Homo sapiens: one gene and its partner. Changing the gene in region 1 together with any one later gene gives a genetic interaction. Each region holds a gene or a part of one and is shown in the gene's direction. Other genes may lie near its edges.

Region 1 (5,953 bases):
ATCTTTGAGTGTATTTAAATGGTTAACATTTTTCTTTCTTTCTTATTTATTTATTTATTTTGCATTTTCACAGCCGTATATTTCGTAACGGCTTCTTTCCCACATGGTAGATACGGAAACCAAGGGTCTGGGAGGGTAAGGGAGTATTATTTGTGGAACCAGCACAGGCTGTTGAAGCTTGAGAGATTTATTTAAATCCCAGAATGGCCCCTCATGTAAAAACAAAAGCAACAAGCTTTTCTAGTGCTAGGCAGACAAGGTTGGTGTGATCATTTGACTGAAACCTTCAGTTCCACAAGCACCCTGATATCCAAGCTCGTGAGTTACAAAAGGAAAAGATGGGCTTCTCTACTTGTTTAAGATATAGCACACAAATGTTGCAGATATACACAGAGCTGGCCATTTTCTTCTATTTAGAAAGTCACTGGTGCTGGTTAATGTTGTACTATTGTTTATCATCTCTCATTTCATCCCACAGTCGGGAGGAAAAGAAAGAAGACTCTGTTGTTCATTGTTTTTATCTTTTTCTCCAGATGCCTGTGGGAATTGTAACACATATCATTCCAAAGTTCGTTACATCAAAAGTGATATCCAGTGACATCTAACTTTCATGGATGTATGTGACAGTGTTCAAGTTAAAAAATAAAAGTTTGTTTTAAATGAATAAACTGAAACGTGGGAAGATTTTTCAATAAGTAATCTTAACTCAAATCTCTCCTTTACGTCTTTGTTTTGGCCCACCATACCTTCATTGAAAGATATTACTTTCCGCCATTTGGTAAGACTCTTTGAAATTCTTTCACTGCAGCCAAAAATCAAGTAAAATGACAAGTTTAAAACAATTTTTGAAAAGAGAGAGATGGGGCTCATCTTTAGAGCTGTGTGTTGTGACTACTGAGCACTTGTAATACGGCTAGTCTGATTTAATATGTGATGCAAGTGTGAAAATAATATTGCATATATTACTAATTTTTTTTTTTTTTTTTTGAAACTGAGTCTCGCTCTGTCACCCAGGCTGGAGTGCAGTGGGGCCATCTTGGCTCACTGCAACCTCCACCTCCCAGGCTCCAGCAAATTTCCTGCCTCACCCTTCCGAGTAGCTGGGACTACAGGCGCGCACCACCATGTCCAGCTAATTTTTTGTATTTTTAGTACAGACAGGGTTTTACCATATTGGTCATGCTGGTCTCGAACTACTGACCTCAGGTGATCTGCCTGCCTCGGCCTCCCAAAGTGCGGCCTCCCAAAGTGCTGGATTACAGGCGTGAGCCACCACCCCCAGGCACTTTTGGTGTTTTTGATGCTTAGCTCTTATGAGATGACCTGGTCCTTTTAAAAAAAGTATCTCTTTTTTTCCCCATTATTTGGAGGTTTGAAGTGAATTTGGCAGGATTCATTAAACACCTTCCAGTGTCTGTCATTTACCACCTCAACACTCAGTGATGACTGCATCCATTTCAACTCTGCACATTCTTTTCTAAGTAGCTTTAACTACGTTAACTCAGTGAAATTCTTATGTCTCTTGGGAGGTTTTCACTACTGCTTAGCTATGAACTATATAACATTTTTATGACACTATCTCTACTGGCATGAGCCATTACTAGGTGGAAATAAGTGAACTCTGTGACCGCCTTGCAGTTCCCATGCTCCAGGGTGCCTCCACATGGGACTACTATAGTGTTGCTAATAATCATAAAATTAAAAGGGCAGGACTTGTGTGGACCTAAAGGGGTAGCCTTGGACACTAAGGCCTCATAGAAAAGGTAGAGCTCGGCCTGGCACGGTGGCTCATGCCTGTAATCCAAGCACTTTGGGAGGCTGAGGCAGGTGGATCACAAGGTCAGGAGATCGAGACCATCCTGGCCAACATGGTGAAACCCTGTCTCTACTAAAAATACAAAACCTAGCCAGGCGTGGTGGCATGTACCTGTAGTCCCAGCTACTCAGGAGGCTGAGGCAGGAGAATCACTGGAACCCAGGAGGCGGGGATTGCAGTGAGCCGAGATCTTGCCACTGCACTCCAGCCTGGGCAACAGAGCAACACTATGAAAAGAAAAGAAAAAGCTCTGGATTCTGGATTCTCAGTTCTAGAGCTTAAGGGCCTTGATCATTCATTGGACATAGAACATGTCAATCTGAAGTTTTCAGCAAATGAGCTTAGGGCTCACTGAGAGCCCCTCGTTGACCCTTCCGGTCCCGCCCCCTTTCGCCTGCCAACCAGAATCTTTCCCAACTTGTCTAAGTCCTCTCAGGCCAGCCTTGGTGGGAGGTTTCTAGGATTCGCTCCCTGCCCTTCCCATCTTAGGGTGTCGTCTGAGACAGACTCTTATTCCCTCAATAAAGAGAGAGACTCTTATTCCCTCAGCGGCCAGCTCCTCGCCTCCCCTCGGCCGTAGCCACCTCAGTGGTCACCGTCTTCACCGTGGTCGCCTCAGCCCGCTCGCCACCCCAGTTGAGGCGCTGCTGGTGTCATGTCTGCCACAGGGGACCGACACCCGACCCAAGGGGACCAGGAGGCCCCGGTAAGCCAGGAGGGAGCACAGGCCGAGGCGGCCGGAGCTGGTAACCAGGAGGGCGGCGACTCCGGCCCCGACAGCAGCGACGTGGTGCCTGCGGCCGAGGTGGTCGGAGTCGCAGGGCCCGTGGAAGGCCTCGGGGAGGAGGAGGGTGAGCAGGCGGCAGGCCTGGCCGCAGTCCCCCGGGGCGGGAGCGCCGAGGAGGACTCAGATATCGGGCCCGCGACGGAGGAAGAGGAGGAGGAAGAGGGGAACGAGGCGGCCAACTTCGACTTGGCGGTGGTCGCCCGTCGCTACCCGGCGTCGGGCATTCACTTCGTGCTCCTGGACATGGTCCACTCCCTTCTCCACCGCCTCTCTCACAACGACCACATCCTCATAGAGAACCGTCAACTCAGCCGCCTGATGGTGGGGCCACACGCTGCTGCGCGCAACCTCTGGGGCAACCTCCCCCCGCTGCTGCTGCCCCAGAGGCTGGGTGCAGGGGCCGCAGCCCGGGCGGGCGAGGGCCTGGGCCTGATCCAGGAGGCCGCATCGGTCCCAGAGCCTGCAGTGCCAGCTGACCTGGCCGAGATGGCCAGGGAGCCCGCGGAGGAGGCCGCAGAGGAGAAGCTCTCAGAGGAGGCCACAGAGGAACCAGACGCAGAGGAACCAGCCACAGAAGAACCGACCGCACAGGAGGCCACGGCCCCAGAGGGTAAGGAACGGGCTAGCGGCAGCAGCGGGGAGGCGGGGACCCGTGTGTCCCAGGGTTCTAGGCAGGGCCGCGGTGCGGGCATAGCTGGTGAAGCGGGTGGTGAAGGGGGGTCGGGGCCTCGGGTGGTGAAGCAGGAGTCGGGGCCCTCCTGAAACTTAAGGCAGAATGTGTCCCAATGAGTCGAAGCCCAATTCTCTAACGACATCTGTGGTTTTGAGAAAACTTGTCGCCCTCTACCAACCTATATTTGATAGGAGATCTGAGATCATCGGTGCCATTTGTGAGCCCGCAGATGAATGGCCGGGTAGATAGGGGTTCAGGAGGGAGCTCCGCAGGAAACAGAAGGGATGCGCCAAGGAAAAGAACAGGCAAATGGCAGGCATCCCTTTTAGTTCATGGCTTTTCAAAGTGTAAAGATTCGTAGAAAGTTGATCCCCCAAATGATGAAGTGATGCAGGAGCACTTGGTAAAAATGAAGCATTCAGGGGGGTGAGGAACCAATGAGCTTCACCATAGAATTTGTCTTTTGAGGTAAACAAATATTTTCCCAACAAAGTTCTGACCAAAACACCGTAGAATGAGATCGGACCCGATGATTCAGATCTCTTCTTCTCCAAAGAACTAGAAATAATCAGCCGCTTTGGGTGGGAGATTTACTGGAAAAAAGGGAAATACAGTGTCCCTGTGGAAATGATCAAGCAGCAGCAACGTGAGGGCCATGGAACTGTTGTGAAAACCAGTAGGAAGGTGCCCAGCTATTCCTTTCTTACTTAACTCTATCCTGCTTCTCCTGAGGGTGGAGTAGCTGAATGCCGCTGCTAGTTATAAATTGGGCTATATTTTCTGTGAATGTCTGGTCCCCATGTGTGTATTATTCTTCCCTAAAGAAGTCACTAAATCTCAGCCCGAAAAGTGGGATGAAGAGGCCCAAGATGCTGCAGGCGAGGAAGAGAAAGAACAAGAAAAAGAGAAGGATGCAGAAAACAAGGTGAAGAACTCCAAAGGGACCTAGACGCAGCAGAGGTGAAGCCAAGAAAATCCAGGTATCTGTGTATAGCTTTGAGAATCACTCAACTATTCCTGGCATTTACCTGTTGCAGACAGTTTTATTGAACAACAACAAAAATTCTCAGTAAGTTAAGTAAGAAAAAGTTTAAAATTAGTTTAAAAATTCAATTTAACTTACTTAAAATGTTACGAGAATATTCATGTACCTAGTAATATGAACTGCAGTGTGTTCTGAAATATACTTCTTGGCTACTCATTTGTTCATGTTGAGGTCTTTTGTCCTCTAGCTGCAAGACTACTAACAAGTGGCAGATGTATCAGACCTACTACCAGGACCAATATTTGTGTAGAAAACAGTTGCCAGACACAGCCGCTAACTTGGCTGGGCCACGCATTAGTTGGGCCTTCGTTACTTGACCACAGAAATGCAGGCTCCCGTAGTAACTAGGAGACAACTCAATGCCTTTTACAAAGTGACTACTTAAAAATAGCAAAAAGCTAAGAATTTCAAGTAGGACCACAATGAATGATTAATACCTAGATATTTATTTGGCTATATATTTTGGTATTTTATGTCACAGTCAGATGAAAAGAATGTGTGTTTATCACTGAATTGGTAATGAAGTCTTAAGGTATATCCATCTTTGAGTGTATTTAAATGGTTAACATTTTTCTTTCTTTCTTATTTATTTATTTATTTTGCATTTTCACAGCCGTATATTTCGTAACGGCTTCTTTCCCACATGGTAGATACGGAAACCAAGGGTCTGGGAGGGTAAGGGAGTATTATTTGTGGAACCAGCACAGGCTGTTGAAGCTTGAGAGATTTATTTAAATCCCAGAATGGCCCCTCATGTAAAAACAAAAGCAACAAGCTTTTCTAGTGCTAGGCAGACAAGGTTGGTGTGATCATTTGACTGAAACCTTCAGTTCCACAAGCACCCTGATATCCAAGCTCGTGAGTTACAAAAGGAAAAGATGGGCTTCTCTACTTGTTTAAGATATAGCACACAAATGTTGCAGATATACACAGAGCTGGCCATTTTCTTCTATTTAGAAAGTCACTGGTGCTGGTTAATGTTGTACTATTGTTTATCATCTCTCATTTCATCCCACAGTCGGGAGGAAAAGAAAGAAGACTCTGTTGTTCATTGTTTTTATCTTTTTCTCCAGATGCCTGTGGGAATTGTAACACATATCATTCCAAAGTTCGTTACATCAAAAGTGATATCCAGTGACATCTAACTTTCATGGATGTATGTGACAGTGTTCAAGTTAAAAAATAAAAGTTTGTTTTAAATGAATAAACTGAAACGTGGGAAGATTTTTCAATAAGTAATCTTAACTCAAATCTCTCCTTTACGTCTTTGTTTTGGCCCACCATACCTTCATTGAAAGATATTACTTTCCGCCATTTGGTAAGACTCTTTGAAATTCTTTCACTGCAGCCAAAAATCAAGTAAAATGACAAGTTTAAAACAATTTTTGAAAAGAGAGAGATGGGGCTCATCTTTAGAGCTGTGTGTTGTGACTACTGAGCACTTGTAATACGGCTAGTCTGATTTAATATGTGATGCAAGTGTGAAAATAATATTGCATATATTACTAATTTTTTTTTTTTTTTTTGAAACTGAGTCTCGCTCTGTCACCCAGGCTGGAGTGCAGTGGGGCCATCTTGGCTCACTGCAACCTCCACCTCCCAGGCTCCAGCAAATTTCCTGCCTCACCCTTC
Region 2 (3,500 bases), on another chromosome or scaffold:
TGAAAAAGAGGAAAGGGTTTAGTCAACCACAAGCTCAGTATTAACCACCAGCGTGGCATGGTTGCCAAAAAAGTAAATTTGAACCTTGGCAGTGTTCATGAAAATATAACGTCTAAATTAAGGAAATTAATAGAAGCTTATTCATTTCAGTTCTACTTTTTTAAAGATGAATACTGACAAAATGAGCAACCAGGATAGTGGAAAACTTGGAATTCTTTAAATTAGGAGCAGTTGAAGGAATTGGGAATGTGTAGTATATAGAAGGAAATGTTTTGAGGAGACGATAAGATTGATTGCAGTGTAATGCAGAGGAAATTCTTTTGGGATTTGAGTCAGGAAACCTGAGCTAACTAGTTAAAGTACCTTGTATGGTAATTATCTCCCTTGATCTCGGTTTCTGATTTTAAATATTTGAAAGATTTTCATATGGAATCAAAGCTAGACTTTAAAAAAGTTGCTCTAGAGGATATGATAAGAACCAATTGTTAGAAATTACAGGGAGAAAAAGTAAAAATCACCTCAAGATGGGAAAAAATACTTGCAGTTCACAATCAACAAAGGATTAATAGTCATAATATGTAAAGTCAATAAGATAAACAATCTATATAAGTCAATAAGTCAATAAGAAAAACGAACAAAATGAAAACCTAGTAGAGCAATGAACAAAGGACATGAGTAGGCATTTCATTTTTGGAACATGAAACCTAAATGGTCAAGAAACATGTTAAAAGATAAACTTAGGCACTTTAAAGTTGTAAAGAGTATATTTGAGCAGAAAGCAATTCATGAATCAGGCAGTACCAGATGGCAAGCAGGTGGGCTCCAGTGAGGAGATTCAAGGGTAAGACTTCTTTCTATAATGTGTTCCCGGAAGCAAGACAAAGAAAAAATTTGATTGTTTAAAGAAGGACAGTCCCTGGATTGGTCAGTTTGCAGTTCCTCATTGATTAAGCTAAGTTGCATTTTGCTGCTCATATTGAATTGGGTTTGTTTTTTGCTTTTTGTTGTTGTTGTTTTTGTAGAGACGGGGTTTTGGCATGTTACCTAGGCTGGTCTCGAACTCCTGGGCTCAAGCGATCCTCCCGCCTCACCCTCCCTAAGTGCTGGGATTACAGGCGTGAGCCACCTTGCCCGGCCTTTATTCTTTTCCTTTTTTTTTTTTTGAGTTGTGTTGTGATTTGTTTACCTAGGAACTCAAGCTGTTAGAGTTGTCTCAGCCTAATGGACTCCCAATTAATTATTTTAACACATGTTAAATTAATAATGGAGAAATTAAATTAAGACCACAATGAAATACCATTTTATACTTGCTGGATTGCTGAAAATTAAGAAGTCTTGGTAAGTCTATAAAGCAATAGGTGCTCTCATATCCTGCTGTGTAACATAAATTAGTATAACCACTTTGGAAAACAAATGATCATTATGTGTAAGGCTGAATGTGCTCATACCATGTAGACCAGCAGTTCCACTCTTAAGAATGTTATTAAGGAAACTGTTATACACATGCCTCAGTACAAATGTGTAGAATGTTCAGAGCACATGGTTGATCATACAAAAAACTGTGGCCGGGTGTGGTGGCTCATACCTGTAATCCAAGCACTTTGGGAGGCCAAGGCAGGAAGATCACTTGAGCCTGGGAGGTTGAGGCTGTAGTGAGCTGAGATTGCACCACTGCACTCCAGCCTGGGTGACAGAGACCCTGTCTCACACACACACACGGAAGGAAACAACCCAAATGTCTACTGCAAGAAAATGAAAAAATAATGATATATTTACCAATAGAATATTATGTAGCAGTAAAAAAAAAAATGAATAAAGTATAGCTACATGTAAAACCATGGATGAATTTTAAAAACATAAGGTTGGATGAAAAAATGAAGTTGTAGAAGTTACATATTGATTGATAACACTATTTTGAAGCTCAAGAATGAAAAAATCAATATATTGTTTAGTGCCACATATTTATTTGGTATAACTACTTTGAAGAGTCCTCGAATAATCAACAAAATTCAGGATAAAGGATACGTGCAGTTGAGAGGTGGGGAGAAGCATAAAAGTAGATCAAAAGGTATTTATTAATATTCTAGTTATTAGGTGGATAGTGGCTCCGTGGGTATTTGTTGTTGTTATGCTTTGAAATTTACACTCCATATATTCTTTCATATATATATATATATATCAAACAGTACATAGTATTTTCAAACAAAATTTATTGTAAGGAGAGAGGCTGGAATTCAGTATAGGGAAACTTTCTTTAAAAAAAAAAAAGTTTGTCAGAAATTAGAATGACCTGCCCTGGGAGGTCATGAACTCCAGTCTCTAGAAGAGTCAAAGTAGAAGTAGAAAGTTTATGTTAGAAATAGCTGGGAGTGAAGGATGGTGTGTGTGTGTGTGTGTGTGTGATCCAGGGTGAGTGGGAGGCTCAACTAAACCTCTTAAGTTCTGTTGCAATTCCAACTCCACCCTACCATGTTTCTTCTGTCTTTCTAAATCTTAGTATATTTCTGCCTAGTTGCAGATCAAATTATAGGAAGAAAGTTGAGGTCTAAACTATGTGTTAAACAAGGGTTTAAGCCATATGTTATTGCTAATTTCCTTTTTCCTGTGCCTATCAATATTTGTATTTTCACATGGCTTCACTCGACTACTTTAGTTAGCTGTGGATTTGTGAAATACCCAAAGAAATTGGCCAAGAGGAGAAATGTTCAAGTTGACACTGCAGCCACAGCTAAATTTAATATAATGGTTGGTTTGCTTTTGATGCCTTTATTATGAAAAAAGAAAAAAATATGTATACGTAATGGTTGAGAACTTTTCATAATGACATAGAATCCTTTTCTGAGGGGCTGCTAAGAGAATTATTTTTAAAATAGTAAAATGTTAATAACTTATGATGCTTTAGATACCCTGCTTTACACATTAAGAAGACCTTACTTTAGAAAAATGGAAAACCAGGACGCCCTGGTCTGCATATCTGAGAGCGTTCCAGAGCCGATCGTGGAATGGGTGCTTTGCGATTCACAGGGGGAAAGGTATGACACATCCATGGTAGCTGCTATTCTCATAATTTCCTTTTGGCCTTTTTCTAATGTAGTTGACATCAAGCTGTATGTAAAATTTAATTTATGCTCATTTAAACAGGAAACTTTGGCTTCTTAAAGTTAAAAAATGGCCAGTATAGGGCCGGGTGAAGTGGCTCACGCCTGTAATCCCAGCATTTCGGGAGGCCAAGGTGGACAGATCACTTGAGGTCAGGAGTTTGAGACCAGCCTGGCCAACATGGTGAAACCCCATCTCTACTAAAAATACAAAAAATTAACTGGGTGTGGTGGCAGGCACCTAAAATACCAGCTACTCTGGAGGCTGAGGCAGGAGAATCTCTTGAACCTGGGAGGCAAAGGTTGTGGTGAGCCAAGATCACGCCATTGCACTCCAGCCTGGGCAACAAGAGCGAAACTCCGTCTCAAAAAATAAATAAATAAAATTAAAAAAATAAAATA

The links. Genes that interact genetically often act in the same process or in processes that back each other up.
Region 2: changes in CT47A6 (region 1) and FLT3 together harm fitness less than expected from each alone (positive genetic interaction), as found in Homo sapiens cells (one study listed by BioGRID).

Annotation. Positions count from the first base shown.
Region 1 is NC_000023.11:120,957,747-120,963,699, reverse strand, and holds CT47A6 (cancer/testis antigen 47A), read left to right. Parts: upstream 1-2,212; 5' UTR 2,213-2,471; coding exon 2,472-3,213; intron 3,214-4,100; coding exon 4,101-4,225; 3' UTR 4,226-4,256; intron 4,257-5,394; 3' UTR 5,395-5,535; downstream 5,536-5,953.
Region 2 is NC_000013.11:28,052,077-28,055,576, reverse strand, and holds part of FLT3 (receptor-type tyrosine-protein kinase FLT3 precursor), read left to right. Parts: intron 1-2,653; exon of another isoform or gene 2,654-2,745; intron 2,746-2,902; coding exon 2,903-3,032; intron 3,033-3,500. UniProt on the Homo sapiens protein: Tyrosine-protein kinase that acts as a cell-surface receptor for the cytokine FLT3LG and regulates differentiation, proliferation and survival of hematopoietic progenitor cells and of dendritic cells.